4 linked regions of the Homo sapiens genome follow. The protein of the gene in region 3 interacts with the protein of the main gene of each other region in a pairwise test. Each region holds a gene or a part of one and is shown on either strand. Other genes may lie near its edges. The genes, in order: OSGIN1, BANP, MTERF4 and ATXN1.

Region 1 (7,169 bases), on a different chromosome or scaffold from region 3:
ATGAGAGGACACACAGTAGCGGCTTATGATTCCTGTCCTCTGTCTGCACAAATGGGGACAGATGACCCCCCAGTATGCAGGCGTCCGATTAAGCCACGTGAGATGGTCATTTCTGTAAGGCAAAAGCAGATGGGTGCCTGTGATTTCATATGGTTCTTCCTGGTATCCTGCATATGAGTAATATTCCGAATCAGACGAGATAAGAAGAGGGGAAAGGACAGATAAAAAGAGAAGCGCTATCACAGGGCTGTGCCTGGTGAATCGCCCAGGAAGCGCCACAGATGGCAGCGCAGTTCTTCAGACGTGCAAGCAGCAGACCCAACAGGCGGCTCAGCACCCCTGAGCGCCCACAAGCACCCACCACTCAAGTTCGCCCCCAGGCCACGTAGCAATCTGTGCTACATTCACTCATCCATCTGACCTAGTTCTTAGCAATCTCAGAATCTCAGTCGCGTCGTCAGATATTCCCTCTGTCTGGGTTTTAATCCCGGCTCGTCTACCTTCCGGCCGTGTGACCACAGGCAAGTAACTTAACCTCTCTGTGCCCATTTCCTCAAGTATAAAAGGAGGAAAAGAGTGGCACTTACCTCGCTAAAGCTGTTGTGAGGCTGTTGTGAAAGCTCTCAGTACAATTCCTGGCACAGAGTAAGCTCTCAGCAGTTGTTCATTCCTTCTTTTTAAAAGTATTATTAGGCACAGTGTCTGGCACAGGCTAAGGGCTTAATAAATATTTATTTTTATGAATGAAGGATAAATGAATGAATGCGCCGCATCTAGATCAAAGCCCTCCACAGTAGTGTCCCCCACCTGAAAAGGCCACCCCCTTTAACCTCCACCCTCTCTCCCCAGGTAACGGCCCCTCTGGTATCTGCCTGTCCTACCTGCTCTCCGGCTACACACCCTACACGAAGCCAGATGCCATCCACCCACACCCCCTGCTGCAGAGGAAGCTCACCGAGGCCCCGGGGGTCTCCATCCTGGACCAGGTGGGTCAGCCTGGGGCCAGAGCTCTGGGTAGTACATACCCGCCCTTGGAAAACTACCGCCGCTTTCCCAGGGAAAAACAAAAGTGTGTGTTTGCTGGAAACAAGACTAAACAAAGAATTCGAGAGTCCACAAAGTCAGCCACGGAGATCGTGAAAGAGAAATCAGAGACCCACAAATGCCACACGATCTAGGGCTCACTATGCCCTAGGCCGGTTGTTCTCAAGGAGGGGATGATTTTTCTCCTCGGGGGGCACCTGGCAATGTCTGGAGACAATTTGGGTTGTCATGGCAGGGTGACGGTACTACCAAATCTAGCAGGGTGGAGGCCAGGGATGCTGGCAAACATCCAGCACTGCACAGGACAACGAGGGTGGTGAGACTGAAATATGTGTGGTGGAGCTTCTCAACCTTGGCCCCACTGACATTTGGATGACTTTGTTCTGGCTACAAAGAATGATCTGGCTCAAATGTCAGTGCGGCCAAGGTTGAGAAACTCCACCACAGATATTTCAGTCCCACTACCTCCTGCCCACAAGGGTTTGCAAATCCTCCCTCCGTACCCCTTGTCTTCCACTGTGCTCCTCCACGACCTCCCCTTGTCGACCTCCCTCGTCAGGCAGTGTACATCCTCCTGTTCCCTTCCCGCCCCTGAGTTGGAGATGAGGAAATAGGTCTTGACCATTTGATCTAGATCAGCATTTTTCAAAGTGCTCTCTATAGAATACTAGTTCCTCAGTATAATATAGAGAGAAAAATGTCCCCACTCCAGTAAAACAGGGACACACTGGGTTTGGCAAAATTAAACAGGTAAATGATGGCTGCAGGACTTGTCAGAGCCTTTAATATGCCCGTCTGTGTTATCTGCTGTTAAGAGGCAGCACCTCCCAAGCTGATCTGACCACACTGATATTAGGGTAGGGATGTAGGACCAGGCAATCGCTCCAGTCTCACCCAAGCTTGCGCATTTGGTCTGTACTCTGGGGCCCTTGGCCTCCTAGAAAGACCTCAAAACGAGAGCTTCAAACTACCCCCAGGGTGCGCATCTCTCTGAGACCCTCCAGTGCCAGGGAAATGGCCCGGCCCCAGTCCCCACGTTCCTGCCCAGCCTCAGGCTCTGGGAAGACGACCCCGCCCTCCTCCAGCAGCCCCTCTGACCTATGCCCCCCTCCAGGACCTGGACTACCTGTCCGAAGGCCTCGAAGGCCGATCCCAAAGCCCCGTGGCCCTGCTCTTTGATGCCCTTCTACGCCCAGACACAGACTTTGGGGGAAACATGAAGTCGGTCCTCACCTGGAAGCACCGGAAGGAGCACGCCATCCCCCACGTGGTTCTGGGCCGGAACCTCCCCGGGGGAGCCTGGCACGTGAGTGGGGCAGCGAGGGCATGGCTTGTGGGGGGCTCTCTCCCTCGTTCTCCCCACTTGGGGCTGGGACTCTGGCATCTCCCTTTCCTCATTCTCCACCCCGCAACCCTGCCTCTCCCTCCTCCCTCTACCCAGCCCCAGCAAAGGCCTCCCATGCCCTCTAGCCCCAAATGGGTTCAGGCGAGCAGAGGCCTGGACCAAAGGGTTCCTTTCCCTGCAGTCCATCGAAGGCTCCATGGTGATCCTGAGCCAAGGCCAGTGGATGGGGCTCCCGGACCTGGAGGTCAAGGACTGGATGCAGAAGAAGCGAAGGTGAGGCCGCCCCGGAACGCCTTGGGGGACACGGAAGGTTGGGCCTGTGAACCCAGAAAATCTGAGACAGGTCTCAGTTAATTTAGAAAGTTTATTTTTCCAAGGTTGAGGACGCGCCCGTGACAGCCTCAGGAAGTCCTAATGACATGTGCCCAAGGTGATCCGGCACAGCTTGGTTTTATACATTTTAGGGAGACATGAGACATCAATCAATATTTGTAAGAAGTACATTGGTTCGGTCTGGAAAGCTGGGCCAGCTTGAAGCAAAGGCAGGAAGTGGGGAGGGGGCTTCCAGGTCGCAGGTAGGTGAGAGATAAACAGTTGCATTCTTTTGAGGTTCTGATGAGCCTCTCCAAATGAGGCGATCAGATACGCATCTATCTCAGGGAGCAGAGGGGTGACTTGGAATGGAATGGGAGGCAGGGTGGCCCTCAGCAGTTCTCAGCTTGACTTTTCCCTTTAGCTTAGTGATTTGGGGGATTTCACAGGCCCCCCACAGTGAGCCCGTGAGCCAGAGGTACAGGGGCTTCAGAGTGCATCTGGTCTGTCTTCCTCTTCTTCCAGAGGGGGAAACTGAGGCTCAGATAGGGAAAGGACTTGTCCACCCCACATGAGTGGGGGTGAGCAGCAGAGCTGGGCTCACCCGAGGACCCCCTGTCCCGTGCAAGCAGCAGACCGCCCTGTCACATGGCCCCCAACTGGGCCTCCCCATAGTGCCCCAGCCTCTAAGGAGGGGGTAACACCTGGCCCCTGAGCCCCACGCCCTGCCCCGTGCCTCTGGCACAGGTCCCCCAGTCCTTGTGGTCTCCCTTCAGCCCTTTCCTCTATTCTGAGCCTGGCCTAGAACAATCTTTCTGGGTCAGCTAATAGGGTGACTTTCTTTTTTCTTTTCTTTTTTTTTTTTTTAATGCTTTTGCTACAGGTGAGTTTCATCCTTAACCATGAGCCCCCAAGTTGGGTAAATTAACTCACCTAAGGTCATGCAGGTTATTGGAAATGCAGAAGGAAAACAGCTCACCCCAAACCCACACTTCTCCACGCCCTTTCACTCCTGGGGTATTTTTTCCCCATCTGGCTTCCTGCCCCATCATGGCCACCCTAGAGAAAAGGTTTGTGAACCCTGAATATTTGAGATGGGTCTCAGTTAATTTAGGAAGTTTTGTTTGTTTATTTGTTGTTTGTTTTTAATGAAGTCTCCCTCTGTCGCCCAGGCTGGAGTGCAGTGGCGCGATCTCAGCTCACTGCAAGCTCCGCCTCCCAGGTTCAAGCCATTCTCCTGCCCCAGCCTCCCGAGTAGCTGGGACTACAGGTGCCCACCACCACACCCGGCTAATTATTTTTTGTATTTTTAGTAGAGACGGGGTTTCACCGTGTTAGCCAGGATGGTCTCGATCTCCTGATCTCGTGATCCGCCCACCTCGGCCTCCCAAAGTGCTGGGATTACAGGCGTGAGCCACCACGCCAGGCTAATTTAGGAAGTTTAATTGCCAAGGTTGAAGACGCACAACCATGACACAGCCTCAGGAGGTCCTGATAACATGTACACATGGTGGTCGGGGCACAGCCTGGCTGTATACGTTAGGGAGACTTGAGACATCAATCACTATATGTAAGATGGACATTGGTTCCGTCCAGAGGCGGGACAACTCCAGCAGGGAGGGGTGTTTCCAGGTCTCAGACAGGTGAGAGACAAACGGTTGCATTCTTTCGAGTTTCTTATAAGCCTTTCCAAAGGAGGCAATCAGGTGTGCATTTATCTCAGTGGGCAGAGGGAAGACTTTGAGTAGGACGGGAGGCAGCTTTGCCCTAGGCAGTTCCCTGCTTGACTTTTCCTTTAACTTAGTGATTTGGGGGCCCCAAGATTGATTTGCCTCTCACAGTTTCAATCACTGAATAAAGGAGTTCTAGTCCCTGCTCCTCCTGGGGTGCATCCACTCAATGAGAAGCTGCCCCAGCGCAGATACCTGGGTGCAGTCTGCCTCTCGGGAAGCCCTGCTTCCTCCGCCCCCAGGGCTGTGACCAGGCCTGTGTCCCCAACGGCAGGCACTCCAGGCGTCCCCCTCCAGGCCTCACTATCTCTTTGATGCGAAGACTCTTCTGCATGTTTGGCAGGAAGACTTCCAGGTTTGTGTAGCTACATGTTAGTAGGCAGCCAGAAACTTACATTTCGCTTGTAAGCACAGCCTTTTATAGGCTCATTTTGCATTTTCACATTGTATCCCAAGCGTTTCATGTGGTGAAGTCACAGCGTTCAAAACCATCCTTTTACATGGCCTCACAATATTCCCAAAGGCGAGTGAGCATCCCCAGTCCAGCAAATCTTCACCGAATGCTTATTATGTGCCAGGCCTTGGGCTTAGACGTCAGAGCACAAAACCACCGCAGACACACCCCCTGCCTCATGGCACTGCCAAGGTTACCCAGCCCCTGCCAGCCCTGGAGCATTCATTCTTTCCATTGTGTCATTATTATAAATAACTCTGCACAGAACATGCTCTTGGGACCGTTCTGTGTCACAATCTTTACAAAAACTGAGAAAAGAATGACTGCCCACAGAGATAAATTCCAGGGTCGCAGACGGGCTGCGCTGGGTTGACTGGCACGGCCTTGGGGGTCCATTGTCAGCTCCTGCTACATGTAGCCGGACGGCAGGTGGCACAGGATTCTCCCGTATGGGAGTTCATCTTGAACCATGAGCCCACAAGCTGGGTAGATTAACTCATCTAAGGTCACACAGTGAGATACAGGAAGGTGCTAGAATGATGCAAAGCCTGTCATTCAACCGCCACAAGAATGGGCCTGCAGTCACTGCCCCTGGAAAGAGTGACAATCCAAACAACAACAACAATAATAGAATACCTCCTGCTGCTGCGTGGGCTGGGAACGATGGTGAGTGCGTCACATGGGAGTCTTTAAATCAACTTTAAATCAACTTTTTGACTACATATAGGCTGGGTGCGGTGGCGCAAGCCTGTAATCCCAGCACTTTGGGAGGCCGAGGCTGGTGGATCACTTGAGGTCAAGAGTTCGAAACCATCCTGGCCAACATGGCAAAACCCCATCTCTAATAAAAATACAAAAATTAGCCAGGTATGGCGCTGCATGCCTGTAGTTCCAGCTGCTCAGGAGGCCGAGGTATGAGAATCACCTGAGCCCGGGAGGCAGGGGCTGCAGCGAGCTGAGATCACACCACGGCACTCCAGCCTGGGCAGCAGAGTGAGACTCTGTCTCAAAAAATTAAAATAAAATAAAATAAAATAAAATAAAATAATAAATTGGCTACATATAGAAAAGTACGTAACTCCTGTGAGTACAGGTTGATGAAATTTCTCAAGGTAAGCACAGAGAATGAAGAAGCAGGCCCCCTCCCAGAAGCCCCCATGCCCTTTCTGATCAGGATCCCATTCCCCATCCCCGGAGGTAACCCCTCTCTTGACATCCAGCTCCATAGATGAGTTCTGCCTGTTTCTGAACTCTGTAAAAATGGAATCATACCATATTTAATCATTTGAGGTGACAATCATGGTGGCCTATCCTTACATGGCACTTACTTCCAGTCAGGTTCCATCCTAAGCACTTTGTGTTTGTCAGCTCACCAAATCCTCCCCACGACCTCACGAAATAGGTCCTGCCACCAACATCTTCCTCATTTTGCAAACTGGGGAAACAGACACAGCTCCCTGATGGCAGAGTCAGGATTCGAGCCCAGGCAGCGGGGCTCTGGAGGCTGCCCTCTGAACCCCACCCTACACCACCCTAGAGCATCCTACACCACCCTACACCACCTCTCCTGAGGGAGGCACCCTTGTTAGCTCCATTTTACAGAAGAGGAGACTGAGGCTTAGAGAGGTTGAATTACCTGGCCTAGTCCTACAGCTACAGCCTAGTCCAGCTCCAGGGCCTGACACTGCCCTGGACATCTCCCGTCCCACCCAGCCCCCCAACCCCTAACAGTGTCTGACTCTGGCGTCCTGCATCCTCCCCAACAGAGGTCTTCGCAACAGCCGGGCCACTGCCGGGGACATCGCCCACTACTACAGGGACTACGTGGTCAAGAAGGGTCTGGGGCATAACTTTGTGTCCGGTGCTGTAGTCACAGCCGTGGAGTGGGGGACCCCCGATCCCAGCAGCTGTGGGGCCCAGGACTCCAGCCCCCTCTTCCAGGTGAGCGGCTTCCTGACCAGGAACCAGGCCCAGCAGCCCTTCTCGCTGTGGGCCCGCAACGTGGTCCTCGCCACAGGCACGTTCGACAGCCCGGCCCGGCTGGGCATCCCCGGGGAGGCCCTGCCCTTCATCCACCATGAGCTGTCTGCCCTGGAGGCCGCCACAAGGGTGGGTGCGGTGACCCCGGCCTCAGACCCTGTCCTCATCATTGGCGCGGGGCTGTCAGCGGCCGACGCGGTCCTCTACGCCCGCCACTACAACATCCCGGTGATCCATGCCTTCCGCCGGGCCGTGGACGACCCTGGCCTGGTGTTCAACCAGCTGCCCAAGATGCTGTACCCCG
Region 2 (7,169 bases), on a different chromosome or scaffold from region 3:
CCCCCCTTTGGAAGAGACGATGTCTCCATCCTCAGGAAGTAGAGAAACACTCTCCGCCACCCTCCATCCTGACCCCCGTGCAGAGGATGAAGTGCTGTCCCAGAAGCCCCCTCTCAGGGGTGCCGTAAGTCTCAGAGAGAGGAGCACCCCGGGGCCTCCGTGGCAGAATCCTGTGAGTGTCTTTGGTTAAAATGTGCAGGAAGTGTTAACTCCTAAGCTGCCAGCAGATGGTGTGCCGAGATACTGTGAAGTCACATGAACTTGATTCCTGTTGGAAAGAACCACTCTGCAATCCTTCGCGTCTACACTTCGTCAAGAACCGTCCAATTTGATTAAACATTCTGGATCGTCAGCGTTCACGGTGGAGCAGACTCCACGACTCGCTGCTCCCATGGGAGGTGTCTCTCTGGGGAAGGGGTCAGTGGTGGTGGAGGATGGCGCGGTGCTCCATTCGGAACCCACAGGTCGCCAGCTTACAGCGTGGGAGCTGTGGAAGGACACATGGAGCAGAGGCGGCTGAGGAGGTGAAAGGCTGAGAGGAGGCTGCAGTGAAACACCTGAGGAAGGCTGGGCAGAATGGATCGGGGGTGTGTATTGGCTGCAGTCACCTCCCCTCTGCTCGTCTGTGTCCACATTCTGTCGTGGTTGAGACCGGATCCTGTGTGGACCGGGTGGGCTGGTGTGGAGTCCTGTCAGGAGACCTGGGGCGGTTTTGAGGCAAGCTCACGGAGGCCTGCCGCAGGGCCCTGCGCTGACAAACCTTTCGCTAGTGACCAGTTACCTTCTGTGTCTGAGAGAAGGCCGTTGTGGCCTGTAGTGATTTTCCTTTTCCCTTGAGATGAAAAGTCATCAAATATCTGGAAGCAAAGCTTAATCTTTCTGAAAGTAGAAACGCGTTTGGATGGAGCCGGGAGGGAGAACTGGGTGCGCGCTTGGCATTTCCTTGCCGGTGTGAATGCGCTTCCCGTAAATATGGCAGAACGCCTTCACCTTTCACCAGATGACGCGGGGGGAATTGGGCCACGGTCCCTGCTGTCATCATGGCATGCTGCAAGCTCTGTGGGCGCTGGTGGCCAGGATGCGGACAACCCCTGCCGCTACGTGTCCTCAAGTGAGCTCAGCTCTTGTGTCGGTGGGAGCTGGCGGTGGGTCCCTGAGCAGAGTGCTGCCGCTGCCAGTCTGCGTTTTCTGCCGAAATGCGTCCCTGAGATTGAGAAAGTTCACACCCTAAGTGTTTTTAGAAGGCTGGGTGCCCTGTTTCCCAGCCAACAGTTGTGACTGTCAGTGGGCAAACACAGTTTGCAATAATTGGCCTGTTGTCTTACAATTTCTGGCTCTCCTCTTTGTGGTGTAGGTCATGTTAGGTGGTGGTCCTTGGTCGTTTGTGCCACGTTCCCTCATGTTCTTGAACTCTGAGTCCCTAGAAACTGACATTGGTCTTATTTTGAGTGCATTATTTTTCAAACTTTGGGTCTGAACCCACATCAATTGAGTGGGCCATGGCCAGTGTTAAGAATACTGGATAAAATGGAGCATGCCTTGGATAAAAGGAGCATGGTTCGGAGTGGCTAACGGGTAGGTATCGACTCAGGAAACTTGCAGTGATGAGTGTATGAACTTACCATCGTAGGCCCCAGTCGAGAGCGTGGAAACCACTCTTCTGTGATGTGTGTCTACTAGCGGGTGGTTATGCACAGCATTTGACTGAATTTGGGTAACTCTGGATGTAGTGTATAAAGTACTTTTTAAAAGGCCATCCACTGGGCCAGGCATGGTGGCCCAAAGCTCCCAGCGCTTTGGGAAGCGGAAACTGGAGGATCACTCGAGCCCGGGAATTGGAGGCTGCAGGGCTGCAGTGAGCCATGATTGCACCACTGCACTCCAGCCTGGGCGGCAGAGTGAGACCCTGTCTCAAGAAAAAACAAGCAAAAACTATTCCCGTTAAGCCGCTTGCTTAGGGGTGACTGTGATTGAACATGTGGCTTCTCATCCAAGTTGATTTTAATCTCTATGGAGATCAGACTAATAACCTCACAGTAGAAAATCCACCAGTGAGCTCAGCGGCACAAACTCACAGCCCAGCAGTGTTTGCAGAGGGGAAGGCCCAGAATGCGTGGAGGCTTCGGGATCCATCCTTTGCAGACATAGAGAATTCTCATGGGGGAGGGAGGACCTTGCGGCGCCTTGGCAGTGAGGGGAGCAACCTCAGCATGATGTTGGCACGTACACTGGGGACTGGGTGGTGACACCGTGCATGCCCACAGGGGTGGAGATCTTTGTGGAGTTCACTGATGGATCCCAGAGGCCCAGGACGGGATGGCACGCTTTTCTGTGAGGGTCAGAGTGTAAGTGTTTCTGGCCTTGTGGGGCGTGGGATGTCTCGTGCCACTGTGAAGCCGCTCGACTCTGCTGTTGGGCTGAGAAGCAGGCACCTTGTTTGTGGACGCTGACATTTGAGTTTTATGTAATTTTCTCATCATGAAATATTGTTCTTTTGTTATTTTTCTGTTTTAAAATGTAAAACCCATTCCTGGCTCACAGGCTGCATAGAAGCAGGTGGAGAGCTGGGCTGGGTTGTGGGCCCTCACGTGCCACCCCCTGACCTAGAGTGTGTTTGCCCTGGGAAGGAATAAGACGAGGTTGTGTAGAGAGGCAGTGGCTGGATGGGGAGAGGCCTGGGCCCTGCACAGAGGAGCTGAGGTGTGAGGCTGCTTGCGAGGGAGGCGGCTGACCAGGCTTGGTACTAGCAGGCTCTCCGGGGAGGAGGCCCCCTGGAGGAACAGCGCTGGCGTCAGCCACAGAAGGGCTTAGCGGCCATGGTCTTCCTGCTGCAGCCCGTGTGGTTTTGGGAGGGACACATGGAGCATTGGAGGACAAAGAGACGGCCAGATCGGAGTGTGTGTGGCAGAGGGGCGATGCCACCCTTCGGAGCGATGGGTGCCAGGGTACTCGGTGAGAGCCCAGGTCCCGGGTGAGGGGGTGGGCTGAGGGGGAGTCAGAGAGGGAGGAGCCTCGGGATGCGGAAGGGCGAGAGCAGGGCGATGAGGGTGGGGCCGCAGGGAGGTGGCCGGGACTCCTGGTAGTATTCTTGGGGAGAAAGATAACAGGGAAGTGAGGAGGGTTCAGCTGTGGAAGTGCTGGGATGGCTGATCCGAGTGACCATGGCCTAGACGGGGTTTAAACCCTGGACTGAAGAAAGTGCCGGTGAGAGGTCAAGGCAGGAGATGGAGACCTGGGGGTGACAGGTGTCCCCGGCACCTCCTACCCCCACCCTGGGAGACAGTCCCAAGGGGCACCTTCACTGGGGGCTGGCCCTCATGCACACCAGCCAAACCTCCTGCCCACCTTCTGGGGGCTTCTGGAGCAGAGCAGAGGCCCCGCGGACCGTGAGGATGGCCACAGGGAGGGGAGATGCGAAACACTGGCCGTGGCAGGTGCCCACGCAGTCAGGAGCTTGCTTGTGGGGCTCTTGTCTGACACCTGGGAGATGAATTTCAGTCTGATGGTGGATCTGGACCCAGATGGCTTGCTTGGGATTCAGCAGCTCTTGGGAAGAGCCACACTTGAGGATGGGCTTGGGTGAGGGTTTGGAACGTGCTTAAAGAGGTTGGCAGGCAAGGATTTGGTGGTAGCAGGTGGGGCACATCGTGTATTGGCAGGGTTTTGTTATTTTTATCCTAAAGACATACTTATTTGCAAACCTTCTATTTTGGAACATTTTGAGATGTATACATATGTGGCAGAGATAGCATAGGGAGTGCCCTTGTGCCTGGTACCCAGTTTCTCCCGTTGCTAACAAGACGCATGACAGCAGTTCATGGCACAGTGTTGGGTGTGCCCCGGCCAACTCAGCAGATGAGCTGTTTCACAAAATCAGTGATTCTGCTCTGATAAAATGGCAAGTCCACGGAAAGCACTTTCATTGTATTTTGAAGTTGGGTGGTTGTTGAGGGATTATTTGAGTTGTAGTTGAACTAGCTGCTCTTTTCATGGAACACTATAAAAAAATAATTTACAGATTACTGACATCTCTTACTAAATGAGTGAAGTTAGCCTCTCACCTCAAAGAAGTCAGCTAACAGTGTTTGTTGCCAGTGATAAAGTTTGAGCTGTCAAGTGAAGTTGGAGTTTTGGAAAGTTTGTCTTTGCCACCGTGAGCCCGAGAGCTCCCAATAAATCAGATGCCAGTGCTAATGCTGATGAACCGTATGCTTTTGATATTATAGACTGAACAACATTTGCAAGAGCTGCCTAACTCGGTGAAGCAACATTTTCCAGATGGTCGATGCGGGATCACGCCTGGGTAAAAGATCCATTTAGAGTACAAGTCAAGCCAATGGATCTTAAAGCCATAAAGTGCAGAAGCTCATGGATACAGTTCACATTCCATATTGCAAACAGCCTTTAAGGAAAAATAAAACACACTTGTTGCGTGTTGGTGTGGTGTCAAAGAGGAATCTCCATAATTATCTGAAGAGCCTATTAAGATACTTTTCCCTTGTCTAACTGCATCTCCTTGTAAGGCTGCATTTTATTTTATTTTTTCGTACTTTTTGTAGAGACAGGGTTTTGCTGTGTTGCCCGGGTTGGTCTCGAACTCCTGGACTCACAGAATCTGCACCCCCCCGGGCCTCCCAAAGTGCTGGGATTACGGGCGTGAGCCACTTCCCCTGGTGAGGCTGCCTTTTTGTCATATGCATCGACCAAAACAACATATCGGAGCAGACCACCGGTGGAAGCAGATAGGAAACTCTAGTTGTTTTCAATTAAGCCGGGCATTAGAAATTTGTAAAAATGTAAAACAATATTATCCCTCTTCTCATTAAGGTTTTGTTGTTCTTTGGAAGCTATAGTTATTTTTCATAAAACATGTTTTGTATGTACCATGAATGTTTGTCCCCTTTGAAACTCATGTTGAAAGCTGGTCCCCAGTGTCACAGTATTAAGAGGTGATTGGATCATGAGGGCTCAGCCCTCAGGAATGCGTTCAGTGCATTTATAGACTAATGGGCTCTCCTCGTGGTGGGTTAGTGATCATGACAGGGCGTCTGTTATAAAAGCCAGTTTGGGTGTCTCTCATATCCCCACCAGCAGGAAGGCACTCCTCAGATGGGACCCCTGGACCTTGGACTTCTCAGCCTCCTGAACTATAAGAAATGCATTTCTTAGGCTGGGCGCAGTGGCTCATTCCTGTAATCCCAGCACTTTGGGAGGATGAGGTGGGTGGATTACCTGAGATCTGGAGTTCAAGACCAGCCTGCCAACATGGTGAAACGCTGTCTCTACTAAAAATACAAAAAATTAGCCTGGTGCAGTGGCGTGCGCCTGTAATCCCAGCTACTCTGGAGGCTGAGGCAGGAGAATCACTTGAACCCGGGAGGTGGAGGTTGCAGTGAGCCGAGATCATGCCACTGCACTCCAGTCTGGGCTACAGAGCGAGACTTGGTCTCAAAAAAAAAAAAAAAAAGAAAGCACATTTTTTTCCTTTATGTAATAAATTACCAGTCTCAGATACTCAGTTATAGCAACAGAAAACGGAGTAAGACAGCGTTAATATGTAATGTGTTAATTTGTATGATTTTTACATGAATTAAAAAATATTCAAACATTTTTTGTTCTAATTTCAAATATGGTAAATATCGATAGGTAGAATCTGTACAGGTGCAAGCTCTTCAGGACCCTCAGTAGCTTTAGAATGGTGAAGAGGACCCTGAGGCCAGAAAGTCAGAATTACTGCCTTAGAGCCTAGACGCTTCTTAAGATGTGTCCCTGGAAATTATGCATGCTCAGGTGAAATTATGCATGCTAATATATTCAGGTTTGGAATTTGACCACTTACTTACAAATTTGAATTTTTCCTCCCTTTCCCCCGCAAGCACACATTTGGGGGGCCATCTTAAAGAAAAAGCAGTGTTGCCTGAATGACCCCAAGAGTAAGTGGGAGCCGTCGGGAGAAGTGTTCTTGCTTCTTTCTGATTTCCCGCCTATCTAGCATCCGATCAGTCATTTATAGTTTTCTTTCCAGTTATTTCCCATCTCATTCTTGTACGTTCCACTTCAGACTGATTTCGGGCAAAAGAAGTAGGCTGAGACTTCTTCACATGTCTCAGTTTAATAAAAGTTGACTTCTTCATGTCAGTTCATCCTGCCTTTCTCATTATTTCTTCCTTTCTAGACTTACATCCCGAGAGGATTTGACTAAATGGAATGATTAATTTCTTAGCAGTTTCCTCGTTTCGGGAGATTTAGCTTTTTACCAGGTACCACTTAGTCTCATCTTTAAGTGGGAGTTCCTGTCCTAATTTTTATGGCTCTTTGGACTTGCCATTCCAGCTCGGGTGGCCTGGGAGTCTCCACACAGAAGCCGTCTGAGGAGAAGGGCGCCAGGACGATCTGGGGATGGGCTGGGAGCTTGGTGGCCGTGGTCCCTTCTTGTCACTTTACTGTCTCAAGCGTCTTCTCTCCCTGGTCGCACGCGCTGTGAGCTTATTGTTCTGGGCGTTCCCCACCCTCAGTTCCCAAGTGCAGTGCAGGCCAGGCCCTGTGCTAACTTTTTACAGCAGGGAATATACTCAGTTCATATTTTTGCCATCTGTAAAGTGAGGTAGGCCCCTTCAAGACATGTAAGGAGTATCTATGGCTGTGGAATGCATCTTTTTAGACTGGCCGCTCTGCATGGATCTGATCACGGGTAGGTGCTGTGATTCACACCACGTCAGAGCCCCGCTCTGGGAGGTGACACATCTGGGCTATATTGTTCCACTTCCTGTGGAAATGACTGCGTCCAAATCAGATGCAGCCTTAGGACTTTTCTTAAGGGTTGATGGAAGAAACAGCTCTATGAAGAATGTCTGCCCTAAAAATACTGACGGGAAAAAACCCGTTACGTTGTGACACCCCTAATGATGCATGTGATGTGGCTTAGGTAGCGACAGAGAAGATCCTGGTGTTGAAGGAAGCCCTAGTGTTAAATACAGGAAGCCTGGCTTGACTTTTCTTGCTGCTGTTTTTCATGTGATGCTGATAATCTATAGCAGTTTGTTTTTTAACTTTGACTGTTAAAGCCAAGTTTTCTGCCCAGTTACAGTGGGTTTCCTTTTAGTCCTCTTTTAATGGCTTTGTGGTTTTGTTTTATGGGTGTCCAATATTTTTGAAATAGTAATAGCAAA
Region 3 (7,886 bases):
CAGATCACTTGAGGTCAGGGGTTCAAGATCAGCCTGGCCAACATGGTGAAACCCTGACTCAACTAAAAATAGAAAAATTAGCTGGGCTTGGTGGCACGCACCTGTAATTCCAGCTACTTGGGAGGCTGAGGCATGAAAATCGCTTGAACCCAGGAGGCGGAGGTTGCAGTGAGCTGAGATGGCGCCACTGCACTCCAGCCTGGGTGACAGCAAGGCTGTCTCAAAAAAAAAAAAAAAGATTTTATATAGTGTGACAGGAGCCAGAGGTGGGGAAAGAGCAGCCTAAGGTGAGATGGATTAGGGGAGGTTTCTGAGTATGTCAGTGTTCCTGGAGAGGACTGTATAATTTGGCTTGGAGGTGAGGAATAGGAGTGGCTTTCTGTGCAGAATACATTTTGAGAGGGAAGGAGGAGGAGTTAAGACTAGAAGAAAAAATTGAGTGCCAGGGCAGAGACTCTTGTCTGCCTTGTTCACCGTGGGATCTTCAGCACCTAGTGCAGTGGTGGGCATATGGTATGTGTTCAGTGGGTTGATGCTGATAATGTGATGTTGATAAATATGTGTACATATAGCATTTGATGTTTAAATCAACATGAAATGGTCTTAGTGCTCTGTCTCTGTGATGTGATGTCAAACCAACATCTCTTGTAAAGACTTAGATTCTAGTCGAGTGTTTAGATTTACTCTGGAACATGAGAGATCTGGCCAGGTTCCTGGGATACTCGTGGAGTGGCCTTCCCTTCTATTTATCCCCCACTCCTGCCCCCAACAATATTCACATCTCAAGGATGCTCAAAGTTCCTTGAATCTCTTTAAGGGCCTTCTGGAGGAGTTGGGGGTCTCCAAGGACCCTTACCCACTTTGACCAGAGGAGTTCCACTATTATTTCTTTGCATTATTGACTCTTCCTGGTAAGATGTTTTTTGAGGCAGTGGTAGAAGGTTTAGGATCCACCATTTCACAGCATCTCTACAGGCCTCCTTCTCTAGAAGATAAGAAAAAGGTAGCCTTGTATATTTTTCTTAACAGATTCTTACAGTGTAATCTAAAAGTCTAAATATATTATGTGTGGTGGTGATTAATTAGCAAACTCAGCACAGCCTTAAGAAATGAAGATAAACCTAAACTGAAATTCCTCACATATTAAGATAATCACTAACTCAAATGTTAGGAAAATTTTAATTAACAGTTTAAATAGTTGACTTTAAGTTTCCCATTACTGAATTTTGCTCAGCTATCCCTAGGAAGGCCTGGAATAGTCCCAGTTTACACCAGTTAGTGCGGTTTTAATAGGGCCTCTTTCACTCAAGGTGCCCTGGCTTGGAGAAGATATATGGTGACCCTGGTAACCAGGACGTCAGCATTGGTGTTGTGTGTCCTCATGATTACTATTATTGTTATTACTGTTATGATGACGATGGTGATGGAACTCCTTTTCATTGAGTTCAGCTTGAGAATGTTAGTTGTGAATGCTTCAATGACTATTTTATTATAGAAGGAAACATCAACCCAAACCAGCAATATGGAGGAAACTACTCTCCCATATTACTCTCTGATCTTTCCAGTAAATGCCTGGGAAATTCTTTTCCAAGTGAGGAGGGCAAGAGGAGACCCAAAATACAAAGTTGGCACCTTTCAGGTGGGAGGCCAGAATAAAGCAGGAATATAGGGAGGGAAGGATGGTGAGTCTGAGGAGTGTCAGGAAGTCAGTGGGGAGATGTATCATTTCCATGGTGCTTCTGGGAAGATAGATCTGAAATTGCCACTTGCTCTGTGGAAGGAGAGGATCCTTGTTTGTTTTTAAATGTGGACTTAAATTGGGTGCAGCTAGCTCCTTGAGTTTCTGGAGTATCCTGAAATTATATGCTTGCCTTTTTTGAATGTTCTGCAGGGAAATTAAAGAGGGTGCTTTACTGTTGCCCTGAAATTTTCACCATGCGCCAGCAGGACATTAACGACACTGTCAGGCTTCTCAAGGAGAAGTGCCTTTTCACGGTACAGCAAGTCACCAAGATTTTGCACAGTTGCCCCTCTGTTCTTCGAGAGGACCTGGGTCAACTGGAATACAAGTTTCAGGTGAGAATGACTGATAGCGTGATTAGCGTAGTTTCAGGTGAGAATGACTGGTAATGGGATTAGCGTAGTTTCAGGTGAGAATGACTGGTACCGTGATTAGTGTAGTAACAGCAAGTTTCTCAGGTTTTTCAAATGTAGTGAAGGTCAGTTATATGGATAAGAAGCCTCGGACACCTCATATTTGAGTGGAGGAAGTGAAAGACTAGATTCTCTGCATACATCAGCCAAAGAGAAATCTTTAATTTCTTTACTACAGATCAAACCTATTCTTCAACTTTTCTGCCATTAATAATGAATGATCCAGTCCTATTCTTAGAGTCTAAGTGGGGACTCTGAAATAGCTAATTTTAAAATAGCTGAAACCTTCCTGTCCTTAGAATCTATTTTGCATGTTGATTTTGAAAATGTAATTTTAACAGTTGTCCGATTTTTTGGTAATAATTATGACAACTTAGGTCGAATTTCTAGATGTTTTCTGAATGTTTTGCCTATTCTTTCCATATTCATCCTTTTCCTTCCCCATTTAAAGAAAAATACCACCTCTTCCTTCTGCCCCTTCTCCCTCCTGCCCCTTTTCCCTCCCACCCCTTTATTTCCTGCTCCATGTTTCTCAGGATGAATTTGAAAGTGTTTTGAAACTGCTGGCTGTCACACAAATGTCAGTATCCTAGACTGGGTATTCGCTGTTGTCAATTAGGCAATTCTTTTTGAATCCTTTTGTACAACTTAAGTTTTTATGGTTTATAGAATGATAGGTTTCAATACTCTGTATCTGGGACTCCTAAGTGTGTTTGTGTCTTCCAGTATGCATACTTCAGGATGGGAATTAAGCATCCAGACATTGTAAAGAGTGAGTACTTGCAGTATTCACTAACCAAGATTAAGCAGAGACACATTTACCTGGAGCGCCTGGGACGGTACCAAACCCCTGATAAGAAGGGGCAGACACAGATCCCTAACCCATTGCTCAAGGACATTCTCAGAGTTTCAGAAGCTGAGTTTTTGGCCAGGACAGCCTGTACTTCTGTTGAGGAGTTTCAAGTTTTTAAGAAGCTCCTGGCTCGGGAGGAGGAGGAGTCTGAGAGCAGCACATCTGATGACAAAAGGGCAAGTCTGGATGAGGATGAGGATGACGATGATGAGGAGGACAATGATGAGGATGACAATGATGAGGATGACGATGATGAGGACGACGACGAGGCGGAGGACAATGATGAGGATGAGGACGACGACGAGGAGGAATAGCTGTGATGGAAGGACTAGAGCGAAAGGGCCCAGAGATATCAAGGAAGCTTTTCATTCTCTTAAAGCTTTTGGGTCCTTTACTTGAATCTTCTCAAGTTATTTTTTATTCTAAAACTGGTCTCTTGATGAAAAAAATTATAAGTCACCTGAGAGGCAGACAGATCAAACCAAACAGGAAACAGGAAATGCATGTTTGATCTGTTGTCACGTGTCTGTGGGGAGGGCCCTGTCCCATCCTGAATAAGATACTTATGTTGAGCTATTCACATCAAGGGGACTCAATATATCAACAATTGGTTTTATTTTTTTCTCTTTTGAATATGTTGGTGATAATTCCGTGACAGTTGGAAGATGGGGTTCATTCTTCCGGTTCAGGAATCACTATGTATTTCCTTCTTGTGATAAAAATAAAATTACGAGAAGGCAATGTGAGGTTTTAGTACATCATAGCACTTTATTTTATGAAAACATGTAGCAGATTTTCCACAAAAATGCTTATTTTTAATCCAAAAGTATATTGCTTCATAATGGTATTCAGTGCACAGCAGAGTAAAAGAAGTTAATTCATGATGTACTGGTTAATTTTGCATGGCTTCTTAAGGCCAGCAAAATGCTGGCAGTTTTCTTTATCTTTGTGAAGAACAGGCCCTTCCTGTTTGGGGAAGTTGGCTTTTATGTCAGCTCTTGGCCAGTGGTCACTTCCAAGCCTGGTGTCTCCGGCCCTGTAGTCTGTAGTGCCAGACTGTGCTGGCCTGGAGAGTGCTGGGGCAGGTGGAGGCCAGGGAATGGTCCCATACAGTTATCTCCCCTGCCCTGGTTACAGACAGCTTCGAGAACCAGAGGAGAAGAGCATAGGGTCATGGAGCAGGTGGGCTGAAGCCAGGGCCACAGGGAGCAATCCGTGACCCCCCAAGGTGGGTGTGGGGGGGGGGGGGGGCGTGTCACCTTAGGGAACTCAATGAGTCCGAAGAACAATTTGAAATGTTGGGAAAAGAGAAGAGGAATTTGATGTCAGCCGGGGTGATCCCTGAGATAGAGGCCTGTCTCTGATGGCATGAGCTCTAAGAGGGTCCTGGAGGATTGGTACATCCTAGAACATTCCAGTTAGCCCTCTTTTAGGGGAAACTGGCATAGGATTGATGCAGAAGGCATTTTTGATGATGGGACCAAAATTCAAGTCTCCTTGGTAGCATTCTAGGATCAACTAGATCCTAGGATCTGGTAGATTGTAGGATTCTAGTGGGTAGAGGCCAGGGGTGCTGTGAAACATCCTGCAGTGCACAGGATGGTCCCACAAGAGAGGATGATCCGGCCCAGAATGTCAGTGCTGAGCCTGAGAAACTCATCTAAGGCCTGGTCCACAACAGTAATGTGACTGTTCACTCGTGACAACTTCAGATGGTAAATGGACTTAGGATCGTATTATTTTATTTAAAAGAAAAATAAGGAGCTGGTTTTTCAGCCGGGTTCCTTTCCCCTATGCACTGGAATACCCCTGGTAGGTGTGAGCTGCATGCAATTGTGGGGATTCAGCACTGAAATCTAGGTGCTTTTGTTTTCTCCAGCAGCCTCGTCTTACAGCGTGACTGCAAAGAAAAAGACTTTTGTTTTGCAAAAGAAAAGCAGCTCGGTGACTCCGTCCACATCGCCACAGTTGAGTCAGATGGCAGTGGCAGTCCTTTGCCAGTGGAAGGAGTTCCTGCTAAGGGGAGGTGCAGGAGGTGAGCTGATACCTGAGTGGGGCCCTTGCCTGTTGGGTTCTCTACTGGAGGACAGTGGGCACAGCAAAGATTCCCTTACTTGTACCTGGCAGCCCACACGCAATGGGGAAAAGGGAGAGTTTGTCTTTATTGCCTTGCTTGGCCATAGGCAAAACTGTTTGGAAATGAGACATTTCACTGTGCCAGTGTTTTCATTTTCTCTTCCATTGTGGCATCCCGGTCACTGCCACCCTCCCTAGAACCTAGGCTGTTGTTGTACCCAGTCGGAGGACTAAGTAGAATCCTCAGTCTGCACTTGGTTAGATGATCAGTCCATCCCGGTTTCATTAGCAGATGGGTAATTCAGCAACTCAGGATTGCTTCTTTCATTTTGATACAGAAATCTTTATGCTCCTGACAGTTTTCTGATTCTATTATTACTAATTTCCTTGGGTGGACTTTGAGTATTTTCAAGGAAGCCATTTGAGTTTTTAAAAGAAGCCACATGGGAAAAGCTGTGGTGGCCTCTTTGGAATGTTTCAAGAACGAACTGTAATTCCTGAGCACCAGGAAGTCTTTTTACTTGATATTTAATGTGGAAAACATCCCAATGGGCAAGTCCTGTGACAGCACTTGGGACTCAGGAGCCAGTTCTTGTTGACACAAGGCTTCTAAGCTAACACTGGAGCATATTAGCATTTGCTGTGTGGCACCAAGCTTGGGACTCAGGAGCCAGTTCTTGTTGACACAAGGCTTCTAAGCTAACACTGGAGCATATTAGCATTTGCTGTGTGGCACCAAGCTTGGGACTCAGGAGCCAGTTCTTGTTGACACAAGGCTTCTAAGCTAACACTGGAGCATATTAGCATTTGCTGTGTGGCTGAGGGGCTTGAGGTCCTAGTAGGGAGTAGAAAGTTTCCTAGTAGGATTCACCTACTTTTCCAGTGATATCACTCGATCTTAGCATCTGCTAGTAATGCTGTAGCTTACATGGACAAACAGTGACAGGTCCCAGGGCGGCAGGAAGTCCGCAGTACGCGTTTGTGAACGTGGTTTCTCTCAGTTCACCCAGTGACCCTTCGCTGAGCTCGAGACCCTTCATTGAGCTCCACCTTCTGCTCTCAAGTGGGTCTGGAGCCTGGGGAACAGCTCGGGAGTACAGGTGAAACTTCGCGAATTGCCTGTTCCTTCTTTCTGAAAATGACAAATTGCAGAATACACAGACACATGCACATGAAATTTTAATAAAGATAAAAAGCCTAAAATATACTCTAACTCTTCAAAAAACATTTTTATGAAAGAGGAAAGGAAGGAGGCCCTCTTTGTGGCTGGAATGCTGGCTCTGAGCAGAGTCAGGGTGACGCGGCAGGGCGCTGGCTTTCCAGCTGGGTCAGCGGTCGTGAGGCTCAACACGAGAGGAGGTGGGGTGGCTGCTTTGGTTGTAACATTAGCAGGGGGAAGACAGCTGCTTAGAAGCATGGTGGGAAGCAGATGTGGTGAAGTGCCGTACTGTTCTGCTTACAAAGATGGGGATGTCTAAGATCGTGTTTACTACCTGATAGCCTAAAACAGTATCACTTGAGTCATGGACTAAAAGGAACCTTAAACATTGTCCAGCCCAGCCCAGGTGTCCATCTCTGTTGCACTGAGACTTGTAAGGCGTCCTTGCTGCTTCGTGGCAGTGTGCCTTAGCTTTCCAAGCAGGGGTCTGAATAGCTTTTTCCATGAAAATTCAGGGGTCTTTCTTTGATACCCTTGTGACTTGTCATTCAGGGGATGGCTTCCACTGTTTAAGGCTGAAGCCTAGGTGATCTCATAGAACAGGGTTCACCAAATAAGGCCCATGGGCCAATTTGGCCACCACCTGTTATTGTAAATAAGTTTTTATTGGAACATAGCCGCAGCCATTCAATGACATGCCTGTGGCTGTGTCTGCGCTACTGTAGCCACAGGGACCTCTGGTCTGCAAAGCTGAAAACGTTTACCGTCTGACCCTTGATAGAGAAAGGCTGCCAGTCGCGCCGTTGTCTAAAAAAGTCTGAACTCCACCTTAGTGTTAACTAGTCCATAGGATGGCTCGTCGACCTGCACGAGCGTCATAAACACGCTGGAGGACCAGAGCAGGGGCGGCTGTGTCTGCAACCCGGCTTTCCTTCTGACATCACCTGGTCTCTGCCCTTCAGCCCCTGCCCCCGTCTCTGTTTTGGAAGTGGTCCATCACAGTTCCTTCTCAATTTGTTGGGCCTCGAAGGGAGAATTCTTTCTCTGGCTTTGGAGTCTAAGAACAGGTTTCTGCATACTGCAGAAGCGTGGCTGACTGACAGCCTCACTGATTCCGGGGAATGGCGAGCTGTCATCTCATCCGCAGAGACACAGACTACACCTTCAGGAACTGCAGCTTGGGTGAGGGCACAGGCTGCTTAAACGCATCGCAGGACTCACAGGTGGTTGGTCCCAGAGGGGTCTCTCAGGGTGGGCTGGTGTGTGCACAGGCCTGGCCATCTGTCCTCTAGAGGCCTGAGGAGAGAGGTCACAGAGGGGACTGACTCCAGCTAGGACCTTTTCTCAGGGTGTCCTTTTTCATCCAGTTTTTAGACCTCATCTTCCTGGGTGTTAGAAACTCGTGAGGTTGGTGGAGTGTAACAAGAACGTCTTAAATCCTTTGAAGAAAAAACAAAGTGAAGCATGAGGAGAATGACAGGCATTCCCACTCCTCTTTAAATGGGCTGCTTCCTGCTTCTCTTAGTGGCCCTCAGGGCCTCTGTCACCCAGAGGACCCCACGTTCTTAGAGCACCAGGATTCTACCATATGGCAGTGCACACGGGGAGGACCCCGCGTTCTTAGAGCACCAGGATTCTACCATA
Region 4 (7,169 bases), on a different chromosome or scaffold from region 3:
TTAAGAGGGTTTGGTAAACAGAAGTGACACTTTGTCAAAAATGTTACGACTAGACTTCAGGACTTCTGAATTGTCTTTTACACTTAGAGGAAGATTAAACAGAAACTCTTTAGCCACAAGATTACATGTCAAATGCCTGTAAGTTTCAACATACCTAAGTCAGTTGCCTAGGAGTCCTGGGAAAGGCCAGTGCTGAGATTATTGAAATATTAGTAAACATTACTATGACTCCTGTTTTTGTTGTCATTATGGAGTCCAAGGACGCACATTTCTTTGAATAATGTTGTGCCTTTATTGTTTTTCATTCTGAAATGTCAAGTGGATTTTACTTTTTTGCACATACCTTGAGTGACAGTTTCTGATGACTAACACTAACACTCATTTTGTTTCCTATTAAAAGTTAAGCAATAAACATATTTTACTAAAATTCTGAAACTCACGTAAGTAGGTAAATGTGGGAGTGAATGTTAATTCTTTAAACTGTAGTTATCTGAAAATAACACATAGATTAGGATCTGAACAGCTTAAATACTTGCATCGGTAAAGTGACAATAGTGAAGTAAGACAGGCTATTATTTTTAGGGGAGAGATAGATTATTTGACTTTCCTTGCTCTGTATTTTCAGAGTAATTCAATAGTTCGAATGATTAGTTTCTGTGAGAGATTTAGATCTGTGCAGCTTAATTGCTTCAAATAACAGATTTAGTTCTGGTCATACTTCCAAGGTTATCAGAAGCAGGCCCTCCTTATTTTGATAAAAGCATTGAAAGCAATACATTGTAGAAATGGTAATAGAAATAATAATTTCTGTTTTAGGACCTTACATATAGAACTTCCTTTTCTAAGATAAGAATTTTAAGTCATCAATTATGTTCACATTTTATTTTCATGTAATTTAGTTTAATAAAATAAATGTACTCATTCAAAATTTTTTTAAGAAGTGATATACAGTGTCAGTTTTACAGAATTTTTTAAATGTTGGCTGAAAGAACGGTAATTACATTGAGATTTTTAAAAATATATAAATGCTTAAAATTACAGAAGTAATAAAAAGAATGGTTTTAGACAAATCTTATGGAAAGTTTTTTATTTTATTCTTTTATAATTATATTTATGGATATTTGTCTTTATTAGTGTAGTAATATATTTTATAACGCTCATAATTTGAACTTTCAGGCTAATGTACTATAAATATTTGTATTACGCATTACTACCATCCCAAATGTACCAAAACACGTTTAGAGAGAACAATTATGGACAAAAAAGCAACAAGCATTATATTTTGTTTGACATATTTCATGTTAGCAGAAATGTTTCATTGATTTTTCTGTAACTTTTAATGCATCCCATTTGTGGAGTAATGAAAATGTAATGATAATTGCCACAATGTAAGCAAAAATTGTATCCTACCTGAAAATTACTTTCCAGAAAATTCATGGTAGTGTACTCAGAATTTGAGACTCAAGAGGGCAGAGGTTTCCCCGATTGTGATGTTTTGATTTGGGCTAAGAGGAACTCTTTTTTTTTTTTTTTACACTTAGGTGCCCTTTAACATGACAAGTTTTGAATGAGTTAGGTAGCAGAAGTTTTTCGTGACAGTTATTGTAGCTACTAACCTATAGCATCTATCCTTCTAACGTTCAAAGAAAATATATTTTTCTGTCACTGTGTATGGCAAACTTTATTTTCTTGTGCCCTTAATTTTGTTCCCCTTTCTCACATTATCTCCTGGTACTTACTGACCATTACCTCAGTTTTGTTTAGGCCGTCTTTCTTGTTAATCTTCCAATATTAATAGTATTGTATTATGTTGCTCTGCTGGGTTTTAAAAATATTGAGTATTCCATTTTTGGTGTATATTATTGTATAAAATGTCCTATAAATTATTTTCTGGTATATTATTTTGTAAGTTTTTGCAGTGAATACGTGCTGCCTTGCTTGTATTCTTGCCTTCTTCCCTCTGATGGAATACAAGTTATGTAAACTCTCTGTATTATCCTAACTAGTGCAGCAACACAAATACTTTTGAAATAAGAAAGCATACTCATGCAAGAGTAAAGTAATCTTCTATGGCATTTACATCATGTTTGACCCTCCTCTGCACTTCAGCAAACTAGGAGGAGGTTGTAACTTGGACTCTATAAAACCTTATCTGCCAGGTGATATGTAAACAGGATTGTGTGCACACACATTGTCATATAGGCAAACACTCTCCCAACTGGTGAGCTCATAAAAAGCACTGTCTGTAAATTTATGGTACCTGCACCTCATTTGAGAATCAAGTATTTTGATGCTTAATTTGAGATGACATCATGATCCTCCCTCCCTGCTTCCTCATCCTTAAAGAAGTACTAAGATTAAATAGAATTTTGTCAACTTCTACTTAACTTGGCCATTATTTATATTTGTAACTCAACAGGCTTCTTGGTGGAGGGACTGTGCCTTCTAAAGATCTGAAAGACCTTATAGTGTATAACAGCTTACCTTCCTTCTCTGTACGCACAGATCACATGTGGGGAAACCAAGGACTACAAGAATTCCTTCTTTTGCATATCAGTCCTCGGCAGGCAATCAATGCTTAAATAAATGCTTGGTGAATGGATTAGTTAGAAGTAAGAACATTTTGGCTACTGTTCATTACTTTGAAAAGTGCTGGAAAGAAGTGGAAGTTATTTTCCTTTCCAGCTGGGCTGTGCTCTTAAAAATAGTGAGTGTGTATGGATGAAAATAATCATGAGTACCGAGATGTGTTGCCATGTACCCAAGGATAATTGGCTCACTTACCTGTTTACGGATTATTCACATTGGAGATCATATTCATAGCTCCAGAATAGTTTCTTTCTGACATCCAATATAAACCTGGGCCTCCTTCTTCCTACTGTTACCTGGCGTGAGCTTAGGAAACCCAAACTAAGTTTAAAATCAGCCTAAGCAAATGTGCAGATCAGCTCCAGTAATCAAAGACTGAAAATCAGTCCAGCATTCACTAGTTTGGGGATGATTTTATAGTAACCCTGCTACTGATTTTAAAAAAATTTTTTTTTCTGTTTAATGTGGATAATTGGTAATTACCGGTATTTAAGAATATAATTTTAATGGATAGGGCTAAAAAAATACGTTAGCAGATCGAGTCCTCAACTTCTTCCGTTTCTATGCATAGGTTTTACCTCACAAAAACTACTACAAGCACCAAGCTCCCTGATGGAAAGGTATATGGAAGATTCATTCATTCTTTCTTTCATTCATCCATTCACACATTCACTCATTCATCATACAATGGAAAATTTTTACTTAACCATGTGCAAGGAATTGTGGCAAAATGAAAATGAGATGTACATTCAGTATTTAAATAAAGTTTAGTGGAAAGTTTAGTGAATATAAATGCACACTTTACACTTTTTTTCTGCATTTTTTCCTTTCTTCTATTCCATTGGACTGGTATGCTAATAGCTGTGCACTTTCATCATTGTGTTTCAAGTTGCATGTTGATAGATAATATATGCCACATTAAAATTAGGCTTTGGCTCAATTACTATTCAATCCATGCCCATTTTCACCTGATACTCCTTGTAGTTACCAGCATGTGTTTATCAGATGATTGGCTAGAATCATTGGAGAAAAGAATGACAGCGGCTGGCTCAAATGGGGAGACCATCCTCTTAATTTGATGGAAGGGATGACCTTTTTGTATGTTGGCCTCCCTCTGAGCCTTGTTGAGTAAAACCAGACCTGCCTTTTGAGCTGGCTGGGATCTGTGTAATTCTCATACAACAGAATGCCGAATGTGATGTTCTTAAAATTTGTATTTCGGTGCATAGACACTTAAGGTGGACTTATTTTTTAAAGCAGTCTATTCTGTTTTTCATTTTGGATTTCCTCTCCTGCACTCCCTCGACCATTGCAGGAGCATCGTGCATCAAGTCACCAGGGTGGTCCATTCAAGCTGCAGATTTGTTTGTCATCCTTGTACAGCAATCTCCTCCTCCACTGCCACTACAGGGAAGTGCATCACATGTCAGGTGAGAGTTTTGCGATGCTCTCTGTTTTCCATCTGAGGATAAAGTCCTGACCTGGAAAATTGCCTCCTAGCCATGCTCCCTTACTTTGTTGGCTGTTGAATATCATTTTCTTTGCAAACTCTGTTTGGGCATAGTGTGGGAAGTTGAGAAATTGCCAAGATTGTTTTTTAAAACTTCGATTAAAGTATCTATCTATTTGGTTTAATCTATATGTTCATGAAGACTTTCATTTGACTTTGCGATGATTGATAATTGCCAATTGGGGCTTGAACCTCATCATTTTAATTGTCAGTTTTCCTTAATACAATTAAGAATGCTATGCTACCAGATATCTTAAGTCACAGTTTTTGCATTTTAGATTACTGTTGTAGTATAATATGTGCGTAGCAAAACAGAGACCTATTTGTTTAGGGGAACCAGTATTTGTTGAATCTTGAATTTCTTTGTGTCTGTTTGGATTTTACAACTTCCTGATTTTCCCACGTACAGTAAGTTTTTCTGGCCTGGAGAGTCATGCAGACATAGGGTGTATGCAATGGTGATGACTCATGGTTCTCTATTGAAGAAAGGGCCAGAGGATATTGCCTCAAATTAAATCAGGAAGGAAAAAGAGGTTTGCTAGAACTTGGGGCAGTAAGGGCTTGGGAACACAAGGGTTTGAGTGTATGTAACCAAGGGAGATTGTGAAATAGAAAATAGGGGATCAATTTCTATTTGCCTTGGAAATGGACCTGCTTGAAACTGTGAAGACAGACTAGATTAGAGGTTCCCAAGCCTGGCTAGGCAACAGAATCACCTGGAGAGCTTAAAAAAATAGAATTTGGAGCTCCACCCTAGACTTGATGAATCAGAATGTTTCCTGCTGGAATCATTGATCTGTCTAGGCACTGATGCTCCACAGGTTTGGGAACCCCTGGGTCGGCCGGTCTTCCAGCAACTCTTCCTAAGTTATGTTCTGTAGACTTAGTTGGTGAGAAGCTCATTCTACTTTTAGCAAATCTCCCATTTGAAAATTTGAATTTTCAAAACTCATTTTTCAAGAGGTAGATGGATATTTGCTTTATAACAGGTTCATTTAAACAATAATTGACCAGATTTCTTTGAAGAAAGAGCTGCCTCTTTACCGTAAGAGCCAATTTTTAAGTTACATATAAATTCTCTGGCATCTTAGATAAGAGCATGGAGCTCCGTAATCAACCCATCTGGACTTAAGATCTGGAGCTGCCACTATGACCTTGAGTAGTCCTATGTCCTTTCAATGCCTCAGTTTATTCATGTATAAGATGGAGGTAATATTAGAACTTTCTTATAGGGCTGCTGTGAGGATGGACTGGAGTAAAATAGTAGATATACTGTGGGTAGAATAGTACCTGGTGTATGGTTTGTATCTTTTAACAGATGCTATCAAGTAACTTATCCCTCAACAGGTTGATTGTTATGGTCATGTTTTATGATGGTTGCTCCTGAACCATACATGACTAGAAATATGTAAATATACCTGGACCTTGGTCTTTGGACCCACCCTGTAGACATCTACGGCTCTGCAAAGCCAAGGAGCCTTTTATTTGTTTTTGCTGAATTTTAAATTCTGAATTTATCACAACTCTCTGACTGATGGGATGCATGTGTGGTTTTTTTTTTTTTAGATTGTTGTAAAATGAACTGATGAATTGCATGCATAAATGTGGTTATTTGTGGTCTGAGTAAAAATAAACAAAAACCTGAGTGACTGAAGTATTATGCCTCAGGAAAAACAGCCAAAAAAGTCCCAGTGGGGGACAAGGTGGAGGAGGGAAGAGTCATCACAGACACGATACTCTTGTAAAATATGGAACTGGATTCCTTACATTTTATTGGCTGTGGATTAGAGAGGTGTTCTTTAAGTGGAAATGTAACCTAAAGTTACATGCAAAGGTAAGCCTCTTAAGATCTACAAGTGTCAGCTGAATGAAAAAGGTAGGGTGGGCCAGGCACAGTGGCTCATGCCTTTAATCCCAGCACTTTGGGAGGCTGAGGTGGGTGAATCACTTGAGGTCAGGAGTTTGAGACCAGCCTGGCCAACATGATGAAATCCTGTCTCTACTAAAAATATAAAAATTAGCCAGGCATTGTGGCAGGTTCCTGTAATCCCAGCTACTTGGGACACTGAGGCAGGAGAATCGCTTGAATCCTGGAGGCAGAGGTTGCAGTGAGCCCAGGTCTCGCCACTGCACTCCAGCCTGGGCGACAGAGTGAGACTCCATCTCAAAAAAAAAAAAAAAAAAGAGAGGAAAGAAAAGAAAAAGGTAGAGTGTCTTACTGCTACTTTATCTCTTAGGGATGATACTCATTTTAACGGTTATGTGCTAGGCTGAAAATCCTCACATTTAGATCTTTGGGGAAATAGTTTAATTGCAAATGGGTTGAGTACACGTGCATTTTTTTTAACCTGTGGTGTTGAAAGGGAGTCATTTGTGATAACAGAAATATCTCAAGAATTTTATTGTGAAAAAACAGGCAGCAAAAAGTCATATCTCTTGGTCAATATGGGCAGCTTATTGAGAAGAGACCTAGGTTTTTATAATATGTTAGGCAAGTTTAAGTGTCTTATGAATACTAAAATACTGACGAAGTAGCGCAAAGTCACCTTGAATTTTAAGCGCTGACATTTTCTATGATTGCATTTAAAGAAAGCTTATAAGCATTATCTAAACATTTTGCATCAATAATGGCCTCATTACAGTCCTCACGATTGACGGCTCAACGTAGGCAGAAAAATAGTATCATTCATGTTGTACTCTTTTATATTCATTCAGTTTTTTTCTTAAACCTACATTATAGTTCTTTCTGGTTCTAGTTATTTTATAAATATGATACAGCTATAGCAAGTTATGACCTAACTTGTTCACAGTCACTATTTATGTAAAGAAATGATTCATTCATTTATTCATTGTGAATTTTTTTAAAACTACTGCATGGTGCTGTGGGAATGGAAGTGAATAAGAGCTACCGGAAGGCAGTTATTTTCTTCCTGGTCAGGCAGGGGAAAGAAGAAACTCTCTGAAATAATGAATACGAATAGAATGGGGTTCTAACAGTGTTCTAACAGTGAAGGAATTCAGAAGAGTGACGCTGAGTAGGAGTGATCAGGAAAGACTTTGAGGAGGAGGG

What was found.
Region 1: the proteins of MTERF4 (region 3) and OSGIN1 interact in binary tests that used the Homo sapiens proteins (3 or more experiments, as listed by UniProt).
Region 2: the proteins of MTERF4 (region 3) and BANP interact in binary tests that used the Homo sapiens proteins (3 or more experiments, as listed by UniProt).
Region 4: the proteins of MTERF4 (region 3) and ATXN1 interact in a two-hybrid assay, tested with the Homo sapiens proteins (one large-scale study listed by BioGRID and IntAct).

The regions. Positions count from the first base shown.
Region 1 is NC_000016.10:83,958,411-83,965,579, forward strand, and holds part of OSGIN1 (oxidative stress-induced growth inhibitor 1), read left to right. Parts: intron 1-849; coding exon 850-986; intron 987-2,158; coding exon 2,159-2,350; intron 2,351-2,570; coding exon 2,571-2,662; intron 2,663-6,651; coding exon 6,652-7,169. UniProt on the Homo sapiens protein: Monooxygenase catalytic activity. Involved in regulation of cytokinesis; promotes RHOA activity, probably acting locally at the midbody in late cytokinesis.
Region 2 is NC_000016.10:87,956,790-87,963,958, forward strand, and holds part of BANP (protein BANP), read left to right. Parts: intron 1-3,081; exon of another isoform or gene 3,082-3,204; intron 3,205-7,169. UniProt on the Homo sapiens protein: Controls V(D)J recombination during T-cell development by repressing T-cell receptor (TCR) beta enhancer function. Binds to scaffold/matrix attachment region beta (S/MARbeta), an ATC-rich DNA sequence located upstream of the TCR beta enhancer.
Region 3 is NC_000002.12:241,091,433-241,099,318, reverse strand, and holds the end of MTERF4 (transcription termination factor 4, mitochondrial), read left to right. Parts: intron 1-1,891; coding exon 1,892-2,076; intron 2,077-2,880; coding exon 2,881-3,321; 3' UTR 3,322-3,748; downstream 3,749-7,886. UniProt on the Homo sapiens protein: Regulator of mitochondrial ribosome biogenesis and translation. Binds to mitochondrial ribosomal RNAs 16S, 12S and 7S and targets NSUN4 RNA methyltransferase to the mitochondrial large ribosomal subunit (39S).
Region 4 is NC_000006.12:16,750,083-16,757,251, reverse strand, and holds part of ATXN1 (ataxin-1), read left to right. Parts: intron 1-3,160; exon of another isoform or gene 3,161-3,209; intron 3,210-3,904; 5' UTR 3,905-4,019; intron 4,020-7,169. UniProt on the Homo sapiens protein: Chromatin-binding factor that repress Notch signaling in the absence of Notch intracellular domain by acting as a CBF1 corepressor. Binds to the HEY promoter and might assist, along with NCOR2, RBPJ-mediated repression. Binds RNA in vitro.